Linked DNA regions of Homo sapiens. The protein of the gene in region 1 interacts with the protein of each later gene in a biochemical or structural test. Each region holds a gene or a part of one and is shown on either strand. Other genes may lie near its edges.

Region 1 (11,620 bases):
CATGAGTCTGGAGGGGGGGAAGGAGAGAGAAGCCAGGGTATGTCCTTCTCTACTCTCCGTGTTTGGGGCTGCATCTCTAGAGTTGGGTACATCTCCTTTGTGGTCCTAGTTCCCCCAGCCAGGGGCCTAGGAGCAGCACCTTTTTTTTTCCTTCCAGCCCTAAGCCTGGTAATAGCTTCGATCCTTGGGTGGTCTCACCACCCCTGGTTGGCTTTTCTGTTCTTCCTTATACTTTATAGCTAGCTTCCCTTAGAAAGTCGCTCTACTGAGCTCCCTGTAGTGGATTTTGTTTTCTGGACTGGACTCTGGCAGATAAAATCATCTTCAAAATATAAAACTCAGAAGTTTAGAAAGCACCTCCATGGCTGGACTCCAAGGCATAGCTGCCTAATATTCAATTCCATTCTAGAAAATAACAATAGTTTATCAATAACACCTTCTATTTATAGGACTCTTTATAGTTTGTAAACTGCTTTTGTACTTATAATCTCATATGAGTCCCAAAGTAACCTTTATAAGATGAGCAGTAGAAGAAACAGAAGTGCCTACACTCATAGTTGGTAGTTGCAGTAGAAGTAGAGAAGATATTTTAATTTAAATCTTCTGCCTCAAAGTCCCAGGGTTAAAATAATAAATTTTTGAATGATTAAATATGAAAAAGCATTTAGTAATAAGAGGAAATGTTCCTAAACTTTATATTAATTATCGTCAAGGCATCTTTTATAGTTTTATCCTTTATTGCATTTCTTATGTTGATTCTTATATGATCATGTGAATATAAATTTGGACAATTATATCACTCTTCAAAAATATAAAACCAGGGCAAACAGTTCTGGAAATTGGACTATAGGAAGAAGAAAGCATAAAAATGAGATGGGCAGATATTAAGCAAAAGAAAGAAATGATAGTATGGGGTGTCAGGGATCTTCTTACAGAACACACACACACACACACATATGGATTAGAAACATACTTGACAATATAGAGTACCTCGGTACAGTTTTGATTTATTGTGACTTATAACAAAGTCTTTCTAGTCTAACTGCATCTTGATGAATATTAACCGAATTGCATAGCCTAATAAACATTCATTTTCTTCCTTTTAAAAATCATTTAGAATTTGGCTTATAATTCTAAGACGTATGCAAGTGGCTGAGTATATACTAATTTCTTAAGCCACCAATCTATCATTTAAAAATTCAGGTAATTACTAAAATGGCATCTATATACCTGGAAGAAAACATCATATTTAATGATTCACAGTTACAAATGTTGCCTCTGCATCCTTGCTGAGCTGCTTTCATTTGAAATACGCATCCCTCCCTTGTCCCCTCTATACCCCCAAGCAGATGTCTTAGGCTTGAATGTGGCCCTGTAATGGAGATGGCATTGTCTGCCTCTGGGCAGGAAAGCTGGCATCCTCTTCTGATCAGTGGTCACTGAATCAATGTTGACATAGCACATTTACTGGAAAATGATGAGAAAGCCCCACTCCAGCTGCTTCTTGGAACATGTTGCTCAAAATAAAATCTTCAGCTGGCCAACTTGAGCTAGGTCAGCAAGACTCATTTTTCCACCGTGAGAGGTGGGAGAGGCACCTGAGCCTCTAGGCCTTGATTGAGTGAGGTCTGTGCATGGGGTCTCGCAAATGTGTGTTGTGAGCAGTACAGCCTCCACAGTACTGTACTGCACACCCTTGTTGCACAGAGTGTGTGCGGAGAAGGGAACACATTTCCCCAACTTCCACTGCCCTCCATGAGGCCCTCTGCTTCCCTGGTCATCCTCATCAGCCTGGTTACCCTAGCAGTCACCCACTCACTCAGGACCTATATATAAGTATGATTGGCAATGGGATGACTATTTGTTTCCATGGTTCTCCAACCAAAAAGGTTATTCTGATAAGTTAGGATGCTGCTCAGACATTATCTAATTAGCACTGTGTCTGCATTGCAGAAAATAACTAACACTCAGCATTTTCACAAGATAATTTGGTCACATCCTGAATATTCAACTGGGTGAGTCAGAGGGAAGAAAAGACACACAAGGAAGTAGGAGCTTGATTTGGGTTAAGCTTGGAGGTACTACGTCCCACCTCTAGCCTCGCTGATGAAGAGAAAATCACAAGTAGGATCCCACAGTATTGGGGTGTTGCAAGAAATACAGAAGAGTTCTTGTCTCTTTGCATTTTTATCTATTTACTAAATCTAGCTGGTTAGCTTTAAAACATTCATGTCAAATTCTTTAAGTTTACAGGAAAATAGTCAAAGATTATTTTACCATGTTATAATTTGAGTCTTTGAGTATCACTCATTAGTATCAGCTGATTTGAAATGCTGCGGCTGCCTCTTGGTTTTCTCAAAAAATCTGTTTTTGGTGTTCCTTAAAAGACAATGTTGTCAGATCTCATAATTCAGCACATGTTTATTGAGAACCTCCTTTGTTAAGAGTGTTAAGTGCTAGATGCTTTCTGTTTGCTTGGTTCTTTTTAAAATAACTGAATTAGGTAGATGCTACTAATTTAAATAGACGTTGCTTGAAAGAAAAACAAATGAAGAGAGCAAGAGATTATCTGAAATATAATTGAATTTGTAAATACTTACTGGTGCTGCCCAGGTCACACTGAAAAGGAGTAGTCCCACACAGAAAACTCGCATCTTTGAGAATCTCTGTAAAAAGACAACAATATCTTACCACAAAGCATTGCCAGTTATAAACTGCAGCCATAAGAAGAGATAAAACACATAGGAATATATAAACACCCTTCCCCTTGGCAGTTCATATCCTTTTGTGTATGTGTGTGTATAGACTATGTATAACTTGCTTATACCCGAGTGTGGACATTTTAAGAACTTTCATATGTCTAGTTATTCCAATGTGAAAATGAAAATTATTCAATATCATTAAAACAGTAAAGTCAGTTGATAGAAATATATTTTATAGACACATTTATTTGCTCTATCATCAGCTCTTCTTCCTCTTGTCTTTAGAAAGAGATTGTTTAATTATTTGTGTAATTCAAAATGACATTAAGTTGATGTAGCAGCTCATAACACACTCTAAGTTTGTCAGGGTAGCAGATTGCACTGTGAGGAAAGCTTATCTGCCTCCGGGCTGGTGCCCTAATCTGTGTCTCATGTTCATTAGCAATGTGTCTGAATTAGTAGCCATCCATGGGCTGGAGAGTGAACTAATTTTTGCAACACTGACATTAATGGCTAACATTTATTGAATACTAAAATGAGCCAAGCACTGGGTCTAAGAATTTTGCATGCATTCAATTATTTGAGCCTCACAACAACCCTACAAGTTAGGCGGCGTTACTATGCCTGTTGTATAGATTAGGAAATAGACACAAAAAGATCAAATAACTTGCTTTAGAATTCACAAATATTAAGGGGCAGAACTGGGATTAGTATCCAGGCAATGTGGCTCTAGACCCAGTTTTCTTCATCAAGACTCTCTGCCACCTTAAATAACTTTCTATTCTTTTATCTTATTACAGAAAAATCCATGTACAGTTGACTTAAAGGCAAATCATATTTTATATTGGGCTCAACAAAATGATGTTCAAAATACTAACATTTAGTTACAAATAAAGGTATTTGTTTATATTTTGGTAAATATACCAACAGGAACTAGTGAGCTCACTTAAGTAGCCATTAGATTGGAAAAAAGTCAACATGTCTTTGGACTATTGATCTTATTATTATATTGTGAAAACAATAAATTTATGCCACTCTGAGATTTCTTGAAGAAAAACTTGTTTTTATGGGAAAAAATAATCTAAATATTCTTGCAATCTTTAAACACCTCAAGGAAAAGCTGGTATTTGGAGAAATGATTGTAACTATTAAATATATTCTAAAATCCTAGGCTATGTTTTTCTAAATTAATGCAATTAGAAGGATCTAAATTCTAACTATAGTTTACCCTTCCAAGCATTTTATAGATCAGGACAACGTAAGTAACTTATGAAATGAGTTAATGCTCATCAGTAGAAATATCAACACAGATGAGGTTTCAAAGTATGAATAAGATCAGATTTTCCTGATTGCAGTTTGTTAAGTGAAGGGATAGAAGAAAACTGAAGTCTGAGTTACTGTGGATCTTGATAATGCTAATAACAAAAAAAAAGAGAAAGTTGCTATCAAATCATCAATTTTAGTTGATGATTTCTAGAGCATGGTAACGCATTTCCTATTTTATAAAACAAAGCACCAAATATTACACAGTTTTGCTCAGTAGAGAAGATTTTCAAAAGTAATAAAACCATACTTGGGTGGCAAGCATCTTAAAAACGTAAACAACTATGATATAAAGCTATTTGCTGTCAAGAACATGAAAGCCAAATTACCTGGTATCTTTCACCTTCAGAATACCTGGCTTCTTGTTGCAGGATTAGAAGTCTCTGGGCATTTTGCTGAAATTTAAAGTTTGTTAGAGTTCCCAATGGCCAATCAGCACTGGCTCACTCAGCGCTAGCAAACAATTTGTTACAAGCGCCCACAGATAACCATAGGGGGTGAAGTAATTTTAATCTAAAAATGTGTTTGTGGTAGAAAGCTACTATCAAATGTTCCAGAAAGTGGGATAAACAGAAAATATAAATACCTCAGTTTGGACATCATGTTGTCAGATAATCAAAATTGATTTCAGAACTGCTAATTAGGACTGACTGAATACCTAACAAGTTTAGAAATGGAAAACATTTTTGCTATCCTTTTATGTAGAAAGTTTATGATGTCAATTTTATCTAAGTGAAATTCAGCAACATTTAACAAAAATGTTTTAGGTGCCTACTGTGTGACAGGCATTGGCGAAACTGCAGTGAACAAAACAAGACAGAAAAAAATCCCTGTCTTCCTGGAGCTTAGAATCCAATAAGGGAGACAGATAATAAACAAGATAAATGAGTTAAATAGATTAGATAGTGACATATACTAAGTCTAAGGAGAAAAAGTATTGTTGGGGAGTAACAAGCATTGGGGGTGGGGACACTGGGTTGAAATTTTAGATAGGAAGTCCTGGGAAGGCCTCAATGAGAAGGCAACTTTTGAGTAAAGACCTTGTTATGGTTTCAATGTACGTGTCCCTCCAAAATTCCCATGTTAGAACTTAAACCCAAGGTGACAGTATTGAGAGATGGGCTCTTTAGAAGGTGATTAAGTCATGAAGGCAGACCCCAGTATGAATGGGATTAATGACCTTATAAAAGGGCAAGAAGAAACTAGCTAGTCCCTTTTTGCCCTTCTGCTTGTCTGCAGTGTGAAGACACAGCATTTGTCCCCTCTGGAGATGCAGTAGCAAGGTGCCAAATTGGAAGAAGAGATAGACAGCCCTCGTCAGGCAATGAACATGCTGGCCTCTTCATTGCGGAATTCCCAGCCTCCAGAACTGTGTGAAATAAATTTCTGTTTTTTATAAATTACCCAGTCTGTGGTATTCTGTAGTAGCAGCATGAACAGACTCAGATAAGCCTGCAGCCATATGACTGTCTATGGGAAGACCATTCCAGGAAGAAGAAATAAGAAAAATAGTGCCCCAGAAATAAAAGCCTTGTGACTTGTTCCAGGAACAGAGAAGAGGCCACTTTGGTTGGAGGCCTGAGCAAGGGGAATAGCAACAAATGAGGTCAGAAGGGTATTAGATGGCAGATGGTATAGGACCTGTAGGTCATTGCAATGCTTTTGACATTGCTATGAGTGAGAAGAAAAGTCCTTGGAGGTTTTAAGCACAGGCATGATTGAGGAGTGACTGAAGTAGGAAAAAGGCAGAGAGAATGGCTAGGAAGCTCTTGTAATAATCCCAGCCAGAGATGATGGAGGCTTGAACCTGAGTGCGGCAGAAGGGATGATGAGACGTGGTCATATTCTGAAGAAGTTTGGGGAAAAATGGTAATAGGATTTGCTGAGGTACCAGATGTGGCCTGTGAGAAAACAATCAAGAATCAGGATGACACCAAGGTTTTGACCTGAGCAACTGGAAGAGTAAAGTTGATTTTTTCTTCATATTGGAAAAAATGCAGAAGAAAATGGTTTTGAGGAAAATATTGTGAGTTTGGATTTAGACAAATTTTATAAGATGGACAATTTAAGACACTCAATTTCTTAATGAAACAAGTAACAAACCTATACTAGAATAAGCCTTTCCAGTGCGATTGCCTGCTCTCTTGTTTTGCCCAAACTGGCTACCAAAATAATTGTAATAGTTTGAGAGGTTCCACTTAATATAAAAATATTATAATACCTGTAAAGGTCATTGACATTATGACTATATATTAAAGCATCAATAAGAAATTATGTAAGAGTTATTTAACCTATACTTTGTGATAAGAACTACCTACAGTGAAACACACCTTTAACAGTTGTATATTATATATACAAATGATATATAATAAGATTTAAGTGTAAACTGTCAATTTATCTCAACCCTCCAAATAGACAAAAACCAAAACATAAAACACAAACAAAACAGTATTTCATAAGTTCTACCTGAGAAAATGGTGCCTTTTCTAGGTCAAGCTAACTCTCTCTTTTTTTTTTTTTATCATATCTAAATTCTGCTGTTCCTCTTTTGAGTATCCAGAGCTGCTTTTCCTCCTCTCCCTCACCTCATGTCTTCTTGTTAAAAAAATTTTTATTTAGGTTTGGAGGTACATGTGAAGGTTCATTACATAGATAAACACATGTCCCTGGGGTTTGTTGTACATATTACTACATCACCCAGGTATTAAGCTCAGTACCCAATAGTTATCTTTTCTGTTCCTCTCCTTCTTCCCACCCTTCACCCTCAAGTAGACCCCAATGTCTGTTGTTTCCTTCTTTGTGTTCATAAGTTCTTATCATTTAGCTCCCACTTATAAGTGAGAACATGTGGTATTTGGTTTTCTGTTCCTGCGTTAGTTTGCTGAAGATAATGGCCTCCAGCTCCAGCCATGTTCCCACAAAGGACATGATCTCTTTCATTTTTATAGCTGCATAATATTCCATGGTGTATACATACCACATTTTCTTTATCCAGTCTGTCACTGATAGGCATTTAAGTTGATTCCATGTCTTTCCCATTGTGAACAGGGCTGCAATGAACAGCCGTGTGCATGTGTCTTTATGGAAGAATGTGTTATATTCCTCCGGGTATATACCCAGTAATGGGATTACTGGATCAAACAGTAGTTCTGCTTTTACAGAACTGCTTTTAAGAACATCTTCCAGGACTAGGTTTGAGCTATTGGGTGGGGCCACTGTTGACTTACAACCATTCAAGCATAGATTTTAGAATATTTGAATATTGTCATTGACAGTGGAAATATTGAACTCTAGAACTCTAGTAGCTTTGGAGGCAAACAGACTTGAGTTCAAATCCTGACTCTACCACCTGTTTACTGTGGCAAGTTGATTAAACAACTAATTTGAACTTTTCTGTGCCTCAGTTTCTCCAACTGAAAATAAGGAGCACAGTATCCATGACCAGAATTTCAGCAAAGTCCAAAAAAAAAAAAAAAAAGGATTTGGGTGATATAGAAAGGAGCTAACAAGGGAATGGAAGTCAAGGAAGGAAAGAAGGCAACAAAGAGTGTTCAGCCAACTCTGAGACTGAATGGAAATATAGAGCTTTCTAAATGGAAGACAAGTGAAATCCACAAAAAATGCTCATTTTCAACTTTGGATATGCTATTGAAGCAATAAATAATTCAGGAATTTCTATAATAATGTGTATATAATGCAGTGTTTTAAGCTGTTACACTGTTTCATAACATTAACTTTATATTTTGAATGATCCAGTTATAGAGCAAACACTTGATATGTGCCTTAGGAAATGTTCATTTTTTTATTGCTATAATTTTATAAATAATTTCAGATATTCCTCAAATGCATTTTTCTTAGTTTCAAATAAATTTCAGTGTGCATGAAAAAGATTTCCCTTTCATTTGAGTGATGGAAAATTAATTATGATCTAGAAAAACCTGTGTTCTAGGATAAGAAAATTTATAGAGTTTTAAGAGAAAAAAACTGGCTTAGCTACTAGTCCTACCAAGGGGTGAACTGGCAGTAGCTAAATATACTGCTCTCAAAGCTAAAATGAATTCAAAGCTACATAAAAAAATTCAACTTGAGTTTTAAATTTAGAACCTACAATTGACAAAAGCAAAAAAAAATGAGAGCCTATTCTGGCTAGAAGGTTGCAGAGAAGAAATTCTGGGGAAAAAAAATTAGGAGAATGATCCTTTGCCTAAGTTCCATGCAGTAGAGATTTTTACTTCTACCCTCTTAAAACTTGCCCTCTGTGTTGAAATTGAACTTCAAAAACTCAATATAAGTTTCCTAAAGGTTATTGTATAATAGAGAGTTTTGCCATGGCATTTCTAAGGAACCAATAACTGAAGTTAAAACCAGGAGTCTGTAAAAAAAATATGTATCTTCACACCATCTCTATTTAACTGGAAAACAAAACAAAACAAAGAAAAATGGGAAACAACTGAGAAGGGAAAGAAATGGACACTTGAACTTTTTTCTGGTTCCTCGTTCCTGGTTCAAAAATGGACACCTCCACCAATGATGCACCTAGCCTGACTTTGCTGGGTCAGACTGACACACAGAGTTGCTCCTCAAAGAGAATCTGGAAGGAAGTACTCCATGGAACATGCTTCATCCTGTCGTGGGTTTTTCATTTCTTATCGATCACTTGAGTGTGAACAATCATATAAAATGCTAGCTAACTAGGAACCTATACTATCAGTTCCAGCTATTAGACTCTCACCCAGGAATAAGGCTTTTTTGTTTGTTTGTTTTATTTTCTCATCTATTTCTAGGACCCATCTTTTCTGTACTTGTGCTCTGGGATTAATTGCTTTGGTATACATTTTTTTTTAAACTTAGTATTCTAGGAAGTCCTTTTTCCCCTGCTATCATGGTCCCCAATTTATTCTTGACTCTATTAAGGTAACACATTTCTCTGTCATCATTTTAGACAGACTCACACAATACACTTTTCCATATGTTCTAACTAAAATAAGTTTCTGTTTTACATATACAATATACTTTTCTGTATGTTCTAACTTGCCAAAATAACTCTCTATCTTCTAATTTACATACATTACAAATATACAGTATTTCCCCTCCTGGATCAGTGGGGAAGTCTTTGAAGTGTTGTGAATAGAACAGAGGGGTCCATGTTGAGTAATCTCTTCTTTACCATACAGATGCTTAGATTGGTCAAGGCTTTAGGCATTTCATAGAAGTATTTACTTCCCACTGATATCCAAAATAAGAGTCCAGAATGAGTGTGCTGGGAGTCTTGCCCTGTTTTTAGCAGAAGGAATGTTTTCATTTTAAACGTGTTCATTCATGAGTATCAATAATCATCCTAAGCTCAAAAAGGTCACCTTTTCTAAAGCATCACTTACAACCAACTTTCTCCTTTACCCTCAAATTAATTTTATTTTTAGTTATTATTTTTTCTGTCAGCATTTGGGAATTTCAACAGAAGCCATAAAAATTTCAGCCAGATGCAGAATCATGGAGGGTCACAGCAGAGCATGAAGTTAGCTGTGTTCATTCCTCTGGGCTTTTTGTTTACCCATTCCTCTATTACAAGCAAAGAGAAGACATGTCAATATAATTTGCTTTTATTTTTATATTAGAGAGATGTCTTACTCCACCTTAAAATGTAACTCAGAGGATGTAGTTAAAATATAATTATAATGATGCTAGCCCTTTCCTTCAGGACATGGTGACATTGCTGGAAGTGGCTGCAAAACTTTGTTGTGTGACCTCAAGAGGAAAATATCTCTTACCCTCATAATAGTCTTTTTCAGAGGTTGCTGTTTTGTTTTTCAAGACCAAGAATCTTCTTCTCAGGATACAGAACTTGAGGACTTTTACCAGCTAGCTATTCATTGTATCGAACATGTATTAATATTTTCTTACCAAATTAGGGTGTATATCGTCTTAGCTTATTTTTAATTCCATGTTTATCTGCATTGTGTTATCATTTTATTTTATCTCTTTTTTCATGAATTCCTTAATTCTCACCAACCCAGATTTTCTCTATGCTTGTCAGTTCCTGTTCCAGTTATCTGTTGCTATAAACATACCACCTTAAAACTTTTCGTAGTTTGAAATACAAATTCACTGTTTTCTCTCAAGGTTCTGTGTGTTGACTTGGCTCAGCTGCATGATTCTCACTTGTGATTTCTCAAATGGCACAGTCAGAGATGGGGTGCAAGAGTCATCCCAAAACTTGACTGAGCTGCACATCCGATATGCCACAGTGCTTCTCCACATGATCACTCTGTCCTGCAGAATAGGCTGGACTTCCTATATGGTAGCTCAGGATTTAAAATGCTCAGTCAGAAATGGGATCTAATTAAACTAAAGAGCTTCTGCACAGCAAAAGAATCTATCATCCGAGTGAATAGACAACCCACAGAATGGGAAAAAATGTTTGCAATCTATCCATCTGACAAAGGTCTAATATCCAGAGTCTATAAGAAACTTAAACAAATTTACAAGAAAAAAACAAAAACCAACAGCCCCATTAAAAAGTGGGGAAAGAACATAATTAGACACTTTAGAAAAGAAGACATACATGTGGCCAGCAAATACGTGAAAAAAAGCTCAACATCCCCACTGATCATTACAGAAATGCAAATCAAAACCACAATGAGATACCATCTCACACGTCACAATTACTATTATTAAAAAGTCAAAAAAACAACAGATGTTGGTGAGGCTGCAGATAAAAAGGAATGCTTTTACACTGTTGGTGGGAGTATAAATTAGTTAACCATTGTGGAAGACAGTGTGGCAATTCCTCAAAGACCTAGAGGCAGAAATACCACTTGACCCAGCAATCCCATTACTGGGTATATATCCAAAGGAATGTAGCAGATCACGAGGTCAAGAGATCGAGACCATCCTGGCCAACATGTTGAAACCCCATCTCTAGCAAAAAAAAACAAAAACAAAAAACAAAAACAAAAAAAAAAACTGTTGTGGTGGTGTGCACCTGCAGTCCTAGCTACTTGGGAGGCTAAGGCAGGAGAATCCCTTGAACCCGGGAGGCAGAGGTTGTAGTGAGTGGAAATCATGGCACTGCACCCCTGCCTGATGACAGCGTAAGACTCTGTCTCAAAAAAAAAAAAAGAATATAAAGAATATAAAGCATTCTATTATAAAGAAACATGCACATGTATGTTTATTGCAGCACTATTCACAATAGCAAAGACATGAATGTGCATCAATGATATACTGGATAAAGAAAATGATATAAATGCCCATCAATGATATACTGGATAAAGAAAATGTGGCATGTGTACACCATGGAATACTATGCAGCCATAAAAAAGAATGAGATCATGTCCTCTGCAGGGACATCGATGGAGCCAGAAGCCATTATCCCCAGCAAACCAATGCAGGAACAGAAAACCAAATACTGCACGTTCTCACTTATAAGTGGGAGTTGAATAATGAGAACACATGGACACAGGGAGGGGAAAAACACACACTGGGGCCTGTTGGAGGTGGGGTATCAGGAATAATAGCTAATGCATGCTGGGCTTGATACCTAGGCGATAGGAGGTACTGTGCAGTAAATCACCATGACACACATTTACCTGCGT
Region 2 (8,804 bases), on another chromosome or scaffold:
GTTTCTCAGATGCACTGGCTGGCAAACTTTTTCTGCCAAGAGCCAGATAGATAGTGAATATATTTGGCTCTGTGGGCCATACGGCCTCTTGCAACTACTCAATTCTGCTGTTGTTGCACAAAAGCATCCATAGACAATATGTACACAAATGGGCATGGCTGTGTGCCAAGAAAATCTGATTTCTAGACACTGAAATTGGAATGTTATATACTTTTCATATGTCATGAAATATTATTTTCCTTTTTATTTTTCCTGACCATGAAAAAAATGTAAAAGCCATTCATAGCTCATGGGCTGTACAGAAACAGGCAATGGATTTGACCTACAGGCCATAGTTTGCTGACCCCTGCTTTCTGGCCATTCTTATGCTCTTGATCTGTGGATGACTCCACTGCATCCTAAGGGCATTTCCTCTGGTTATAGAGAAATCTACAATGAGAAACCAAACTGCTATTTACATGTATTTTTTAAAGCTCCTAACCATTCAAAAGTAACATCTTAATTTTTATATTAAAAATATTTTCTTTATTGTCTCTATTTCATTCACTTACACCTTCACATTATCTGGGCTTATTGATCCTCATTTATTTGGAGAATTTTAAAATAACCCCATCCATGGAGATAATGCTCTTCCTTGAGGGGTTGGGTCTGTCAGTGTCCCAATTAATTAATTATACACACACACACACACACACACACACACACACGTACATATATATATATATATATATTTTTTTTTTTTTTTTTTTTTTTGAGACGGAGTCTCACTCTGTCACCCAGGCTGGAGTGCAGTGGTGCGATCTTGGCTCGCTACAACCTCCGCCTCCTGGGTTCAAGCAATTATCCTGCCTCAGCCTCCTGAGTAGCTGGGATTACAGGCGTGCACCACCACGCCCAGCTAAGATTTGTATTTTTAGTAGAGATGGGGTTTCACCATGTTGGCCAGGCTGGTCTCGAACTCCTGACCTCAGGTGATCCGCCCACCTCGGCCACCCAAAGTGCTGGGATTGCAGGCCTGAGCCACCGTGCCTGGCCTAATTAGTTATATTTAAAACCTTCCTTCTGCTCATCGTTAGATAAAGATACCTGATTTTACTTCTTCCTTTGAGGTTTTGGGTCAAGAATTATCTCTCATGAAAGGAATAAGTCTTTAACGATTTTATTAGCTATTTTGTTTTTTAAAATAAGGCTAGGATCAAGAAGGTATTGTCCAGAATTATAAAAATATTATTTACAATAAAGCTTATTTTTGCATTATATAAAAGAACACATGCTCACTAAAGAACATTAGGTCAACATATAAAAATTGACTGATGGGGAAAATTCCCCCTGAGGTTCTGCCACCCAGGCATATTGGAATATTGCACACTAATCTTTATGCTGCCCATATATATTTTTTTACATAACTTTTTTTTTTTTTTTGCTTTATACAGAAATCAAAACACACCTTTTTGCTAAGAAACTTATTTTCTTAAAAACAGGACTGAGATGGGCCAGGCGCAGTGGCTCACACCTGTAATCCCAGCACTTTGGGAGGTCGAGGCGGGCGGATCATGAGGTTAGGAGATCGAGACCATCCTGGCTAACACGGTGAAACCCCATCTCCACTAAAAAATACAAAAAAATTAGCCGGGCGTGGTGGCGGGTGCCTGTAGTCCCAGCTACTCGGGAGGCTGAGGCAGGAGAATGGCGTGAACCCGGGAGGCAGAGCTTGCAGTGAGCCAAGATCACCCCACTGCACTCCAGCCTGGGTGACAGAGTGAGACTCTTGTCTCGAAAAAAAAAAAAAAAATAGGACTGAGATGTTTCATCGGCAGTTTTCTTGAATCTCTAATGTAACACAATGCAATGCAAAGAGGCTGTTTGGAGGATGGCAGCAGAGAAAAAGAACAAAGGAAAAGCAGGCTCCATTTAGAGAGTGGGTTAATAAATAATAAAAACTCGCCACACTGGGTAGTAATCTACAGGTCTTCCATCTCTAGCAGAAATATAGGTACTGCCGAGCTTTCTGCCACAGAGGGCCTTGGTCCCCATTCACCTCCCACCATCCCTCTCCCCATGGCCACATCTCCAAATGATTCATTGTTTCTGCTCACAGAGCACAGCAAGAATGAATTCCCCAGAATTTCCTCAGCTACTACAAATACTTTTGAAATCTTAAACTAACATCTGCTAATGCCCAGGTGCTACCTGGGGTTGACAAATTGGGCACCCTTCTGTACTTCTGCAGACACCTATTTAGATAATGTTGCCAGGCAGATGGAGATATTAAGCCATTGGTGAAAAGCTATTTCAATTTTAGACTTTTTTTTTTTTGGAGTGGGGGAAGGGAGGAAATAGCTGGAAGCTTGGTCCACAAAGTTGCAAATGTCTGGTAGCTAAGCTGGGCCTGGTGGGCGGAGAGTTTGTGGGGTTCAGGGCAGGCGGACAATGACTGTTGCTATCAATAGGTGATTGAGATATGTTCAGTATATTCTTTACCCCTACCCCTTTTTTGGTCCGTATCTGTATGGATGGTTTAGATAAGATCCAGAACTCTAAAAGCCAAACATGCTAGCTTTCTATTTCCACTCTGATTGGCTCCAAATGACATAGTTTAAAAGTTTCAATTTTCCCATCTTGAACATGGGCATGGAGTTATAAACCAATAGAGTGAAAGTATGAGACTTAAACCACTGATAATTGGAGGCTGAAGCGACTTTAGAGAGTGTCTCGCCCAGTGGTGCTCATATTTGAGCATGTATCGGAATCACCTGGGGGGCTTGTTAAACCGCAGATGGCTGGGCCCCACCCCCAGGGTTTCTGAGTCAAGATCTTGGAGTGGCTTTCTAACAAGCTTCCAGGTGCAGCAGCAGCAGCTGCTGCTGCTCTAGAGACCACACTCTTAGGAGCTCTGGTCTAGTTATACTCACTTATCTTACGTACGAGAGAACTGAGTTTCAAAGCAACCAAGAGTCTTACCAAGGTTATTTAGCTAGCAGCTAGAGTCTGGTTTCGTGACATTGAACCAACTGGGTTTTGGAATACCGTGTCAACACTGAGAAGGATGAACTGATATCAAATATCTTGCGTATGTTTCCGAGGGTGGTTTACCGGATGGTGGTCTGCTACAACTCAGCCATTTATTGTGGTCTGTTTTTTCAGTGAGTCAAGGTCTCTTAAGTCTCCAAGCTAAACAGGAGTACTGCCTGAAGCCAGAATGCATCGAAGCGGGTAAGTCACAGTTTTCCATCCTGTGTCAAGTTATAATTATGGTACCTTGGGAAGTGGAAGAGAAGACAGGTGGTATTTTTAGTATTCTGTTTGCTTGAGGTTTACCAAGTACGAAATGCAATTTTGAAGAAATTTTAAGTTTATTTTCAAGTTTTGGTGTGAAACAGTGGAGCTTAGGTTTCCTGTTTTCTTTTTCCTTGCAAAAACTGTGGTATTCTAAGCGTTGTTACAAGGAAATCAGGAAGGGGCTTGGAAGGCTGAATGGCCTCTCTTAAGACCCACAGGCAGAGAACATTGGTCTTCCTATGGCTCCGCTGGCTATGAATTCCTCTTTACCTTAAGCAGTTGCCTATCTTCTGGTCTGTGGGTCTGACTTGCCTGCCTCTAAGCAAGGCTCCTTTGCAAATAAATCCACGCTTCCATTGTCAGTGGGAGTCCCTTTTCTCTTTTTTAAAAATTGAGACGGAGTCTTGCTCTGTCGCCCAGGCTGGCACGATCTCAGCTCACTGCATCCTCCACCTCCTGGGCTCAAGTGATTCTCCTGCCTCAGCCTCCCTAGTAGCTGGGATTACAAGTGCCCACCACCACGCCCGGCTGATTTTTGTATTTCTAGTAGAGACGGAGTTTCACCTTGTTGGCCACACTGATCTCGAACTCCTGACCTCAAGTGATCCACCCGCCTTGGCCTCCCAAAGTGCTGGGATTACAGGCAAGAGCCACTGTGCCCGGCTGGGAATCTCTTTTTTCTGTCACACGTTGCAAGTCAAACTTCTCTTGAGGTGACCAGGCTGTGTATCAGTGGATATCCCAGGGTGAAGATGAGTGTTTAAAGTGGCCGCAGTTTTGCCACAGTGTCTTATCCCATCAAACTCATGGCTGGAGTTGCCCCAAAAGCAGCAACAGGGAAATTCCCATGAGGGAATATCCCATCCCGAGATGGGGCCAGTTGGGATTCCAAAGAAAGAAGCACTAAATAAATGCCAGGGCGGCCGGTCAGTCCAAAGCATTTATTAGTGCAACTTATGTTGAAAGTGCTGCAGTGTATCCTCAAGACAGTGAGAGAAAAGGGGTGTTCTACTTAGGGCATTAGGGTGTGGAGACTATATGCGGGTTTAAGGAATTTGGCTCAGAGCCGGTACTAGTTTCTTTCAGTGTTTTGTGCATCAACCTAGATACCTTTATCAGTGCCTGGGAATGTTCAAGGGTCCAGTCTGGACCTAAGCCTGCTGGGAAAAACCAGCAGCTGGAATTAGCCGGGCATGGTGGCTCATGCCTGTAATCTCAGTTACTCGGGAGGCTGAGGCATGAGAATTGCTTGAGCCCAGGAGGCGGAGGCTGCAGTGAGCTGAGATTGCACCATTGCACTCCAGCCTCGGTGACAGAGGGAACTTCTGTCTCAAAAAAAACAAAACAAAACAAACCTGCAGGTGGCTGGGTCACAGAGTGGTCAGGGGATTGTGTAATTTTTGGTTAGGACACCGAAAGCGGCGGTGGGGAGGTGAGGGGAAACCTGGGGGTCCCACACACAGCTATTAGATTTCCCTCCTAAATCAGTGTTAGGGCCTAGATTTCAGGGAGCCAGATTCTAGCCCTCACCCTCATTCTTTAAGTGGGCAGGGACACTTTTTTCCTTTTTCCAAAAGGAAAGTCATCAAACAAGCATGTGGCCCTTTCACTTTCCTCTTGGCCTTAAAAGGTTAATGAACAAATTCACCAAATATTTGTTGCACATGAGGTACTGAGTTAGGTTTTGGAAATAGAGCAGTGAACCAGGTATGGGAAGAAAGACAATAAGGCAATTAATACAATGAGAAAATTATGAAACTGGGTGTGGTGACACGTGCCTTTAGTTCCAGCCACATGGGAGGCTGAGGCTTGAGCCCTGGAGTTGGAGGCCAGCCTGGGCAAATTAGTGAGACCCCATCTCTGAAAGAAAGAAAGAGGAATATCAGTCAGTGGAAAATGTTATAGAGAAAATTAAAAAAAAGATAGAACAATGTGATAGCAAGTGACAGGATGGCTAGATTGAAAAGCCGGAGGACATGACCTTGGAGGTGACCTTTGAATGATGAGGAGGGAACTGCTGTGTGAAGACTGAGGCAAGGGCTTTCCAGGTGGGGGGAACAGATGGGGCAAAGGGTGCATAGAAGCATGAACTTGGTGGACTTGAGGAACGGGAGGAGCTTGCTAGGTGAGGTGCAAGTGATGAGGAGTCAATGGGGGACCCAAGTGCCAGTGAGTTTGGGCTTTCCTTAAGTGTGCTCGAAAGCCTCTGGAGGCTTTTATGAAAGAGAATACATCTTAGGAGCATTTCAAAAGATGTCTCGGTGGAGGGCTCAGTTAGAGGGAGTCTTTCTTGATGGAGAAGAGACCATAGGGAGCAAGAATAGAAGAAGGTGACTCAAGTAGGTTTATTTCTGTACGCCAGGTGACAGACGATGCTGTCTTGAATTCAAGAGATGGAGAGGGAGAATGGGGGAAGGTTTAGGAGGTAGAGGGCCTATTGAAGGATTCGATGCAGGCTGTGAACAAAAGCAGACAATTGTGGGTGACGCTTAGATTTTTGGTGATGGTTGGGCAGTGGTGTTTATTGAGATGGGAAACACTTAGGTGAAAGAGCTTGTAAATTCGGAGACCTTATACAAAGGTAGTGGCTTAGATAATTATGTTAGTAGAGTTCTTTTTTTGTTCCATTCTTAAGTGATCTCTCTCTCTCTCTCTCTCTCTCTATATATATATATATATATATATATATATATATATATTTTAACCAGGCTGTGTGTTGAGTGCCTTACAGGCACCATCTCATAAAACCTTCATAAGACCCCTATGAAGTCAGTGCTATCACCAGCCTCACTGACAGATGAGGAAATGGAGGCTTCTGGAGGCTAAATAACTGCCCAGGGTCTCATCCTGAGTTAGTAGCAGAGCTGGACTTCGTGTCCATGTCTGGCTCCTTTCCGTCTTTTCCTTGGTGATATGGGGCCATGCCAGGCAACTCTTTTTGGCCCTGGAACTATCTGAGAACTCCCAGGCCCTTTCCTGCTCCAGGCTTGAGTAGTTGACCTGAGGTTTTCTCCAGTGGTGAGAGATTGTCATGGAGTGGGGTGAGAGAGCAGGCGGAACTATCAGGACAGGTTTTAGAGTTTATGTCACCTGGTGCTTTGGCTGTGGTGGGGTTCTTGCAGATGTGTGAAATGGGAATTTTTGAGCTCATAAATTTTCAACTTGAGTTTAGAACACTTTTTTGTATGGAAGGCCACTTATTTCATGAGTTTTAGTTCTGTATTATGAATCATAATAATGCAAGACTAAAACTTACAGACTGACATTCAAAGATGTTGCCTTCTGCCAGCTAGTGTGTTCTGCCTTGCTGTCCTGTTTTTAATTTTCACATTGGCGAATGGCTTTCTAATGTTGAAAAAAAATATTGATTTTGCTGTTTCTGGAGTGAAAGGCTCACCAAAGACCCAGTTCTCTTTAGTGTAACGTGAGCCTCAGTGTGCCCAGGGGTCTGCAGAACAGCTGTGAGTACACATGGCAGGAGAATTACGGCCAAGCCAGGGCCTTAAACAAGAGGCTGTGCGTGCGTGGGCGTGCATGCTGAAAGTTCAGAAGACTAGAGTGTTTGATCGCCTTCTGGACCATTTCTGAGCAGGTGCCAACCACTTCTGAGATGCTTCCTCTCCATAACTCTCCTCTTCTCTGTGTCCTCTTATTTTAATCCCTCTTTCAAAATAAGAGCTGTGCAAAGAATGCAAAGAAACAAGGAAAGGGCATGCATGCTCATGATCACAGATAAGGGCAGACAGGCTGACTGGGTTTGAAGCATGATTTAGCTATTTACAAGCCACATGATCCTGGGCTAAATATATAGCCACGCTAAGCCTCAGTCTCACCAAGTGTGAAATGGGAATAACAGGTTTTACTTATACTAGTCGTGAGAATAAAAGAAAATAATAATGGACTGGGCACGGTGGCTCTCGCCTGCCACCCCAGCACTTTGGGACGCTGAGGCGGACAGATCACTTCAGGCCAGGAGTTCAAGACCAGTCTGGCCAACATGGTGAAACTCCATGTCTACTAAAAATACAAAAATTAGCCAGGCGTGGTGGCGCAAGTCTGTAATCCCAGCTACCTGGGAGGCCGAGGCAGGACAATCACTTGAACCTGGGAGGTGGAGGTTGCAGTGAGCCGAGATTGCAGGTTGAATCTGCACTTCAACCCCAAGGGGGAGGTTGCAGTTCAGCCTGGGCAACATAGTGAGACTCCGCCTCAAAAAAAAAAAATTAGAAAAAGAAAATAATAATGGTAGTAGCAGTAATTTAGGTTCACAATGCTGATTCTTAACCCCAAACCCAGAAAACGATGTAACTCTCAGTTGGCAAGATGGGGGCCTGATCTCAATTCCTTTGATGGCAAAATTGGATCTTAACTCATGTGAGGCTGCTTCAGATTTCATTTATCCTACTTACAAGAATATGCATATGTTTCCCTATAGAAACATTAATGCACTTGCTTCAGGCCTGCCACTCCAGCCATTGCTGAAGTATTACATGATCTGTGGTTATATGCAATGTATTTATTTTCTAAAATCTGAAAAATCTATGAGCTCTGAAACATATCTAACCTCAAGAGTTTCAGATAAGTGATTGTGGAATTACAGTTCCCAGATTTAGCTAACTACATACATACGTACATACAGGATGCTTAGTGAAATTTGATTGCAGATACACAATGACTACTTTTTCTGGTGTATGTCTCATGGACTATTTGGTACCTACTTATTCTAAAAGGTGGTTGTTTATCAGAAATTCAGACTTCACTGGGCATCATGCATTTATATGGTAATGTGCCCAACACTATTCTAAGCACTTTACATATATTTAATTTGCATAATGATTCCATGGGGTGCTATTATTATCCCCATTTTCAGGTGAGGAAACTAAGACACAGGTTAAATCACCTGCCTAAGGTGTCTTAGCTGCTGCATGGTGTTTCTCTCATTCAAACACAAGTGGTCTGACTAGAGTTTGTGACGATACCATATTGCTAAAAAAGGGCTTAGCGTAGGTCCTGGCAAAAAGGAAATACTCAATATTGGTGATTTTATTATTGTTAATTATTATTATTACTACTCTCTCCCTTCATCCTTGATTAAATCTAAAAACAGAGGCTGGTATTTAGGGAGGATGCCTCCACCTCTACCACACAAACAGCAACTGGTGACTGTGTGACAATTAACCTTATATATAGTGACTTGGAAGAGTACACAGCCTGAGCTTTCACAGATTTCCTTCATCATCATATTTCTTTTATTAAAACAAGACTCTGGGTTTTCTCCATGGAGCTGAGTAGGGGGAAAGGCGTTTTGGTGTCTTGACAACTATGGTCCCTTGCAATTTGAAGTCACAGTTCCCCTGCAGAAAGTGCAGCCCTGTGCCCCGCTGTGAATTGTGAATGATGAATTGGGAGGCTGCAACTAGAGTTTTCTCACTCAGCAGGCTTCTTTCCAAATTCAATGTGAGTGATGTATTTCCCAACTTTTGTATCAGGGCCAAGGTCAGAGCTGACCTTGCAGTTTTTCTAGG

What was found.
Region 2: the proteins of MEPE (region 1) and PHEX interact in a biophysical measurement, tested with the Homo sapiens proteins (one study listed by IntAct).

What each region holds. Positions count from the first base shown.
Region 1 is NC_000004.12:87,825,749-87,837,368, reverse strand, and holds the start of MEPE (matrix extracellular phosphoglycoprotein isoform a precursor), read right to left. Parts: upstream 4,401-11,620; 5' UTR 4,355-4,400; intron 2,667-4,354; 5' UTR 2,655-2,666; coding exon 2,601-2,654; intron 1-2,600. UniProt on the Homo sapiens protein: Promotes renal phosphate excretion and inhibits intestinal phosphate absorption. Promotes bone mineralization by osteoblasts and cartilage mineralization by chondrocytes.
Region 2 is NC_000023.11:22,035,325-22,044,128, forward strand, and holds part of PHEX (phosphate-regulating neutral endopeptidase PHEX), read left to right. Parts: intron 1-2,830; exon of another isoform or gene 2,831-3,070; intron 3,071-3,144; coding exon 3,145-3,213; intron 3,214-8,804. UniProt on the Homo sapiens protein: Peptidase that cleaves SIBLING (small integrin-binding ligand, N-linked glycoprotein)-derived ASARM peptides, thus regulating their biological activity. Cleaves ASARM peptides between Ser and Glu or Asp residues.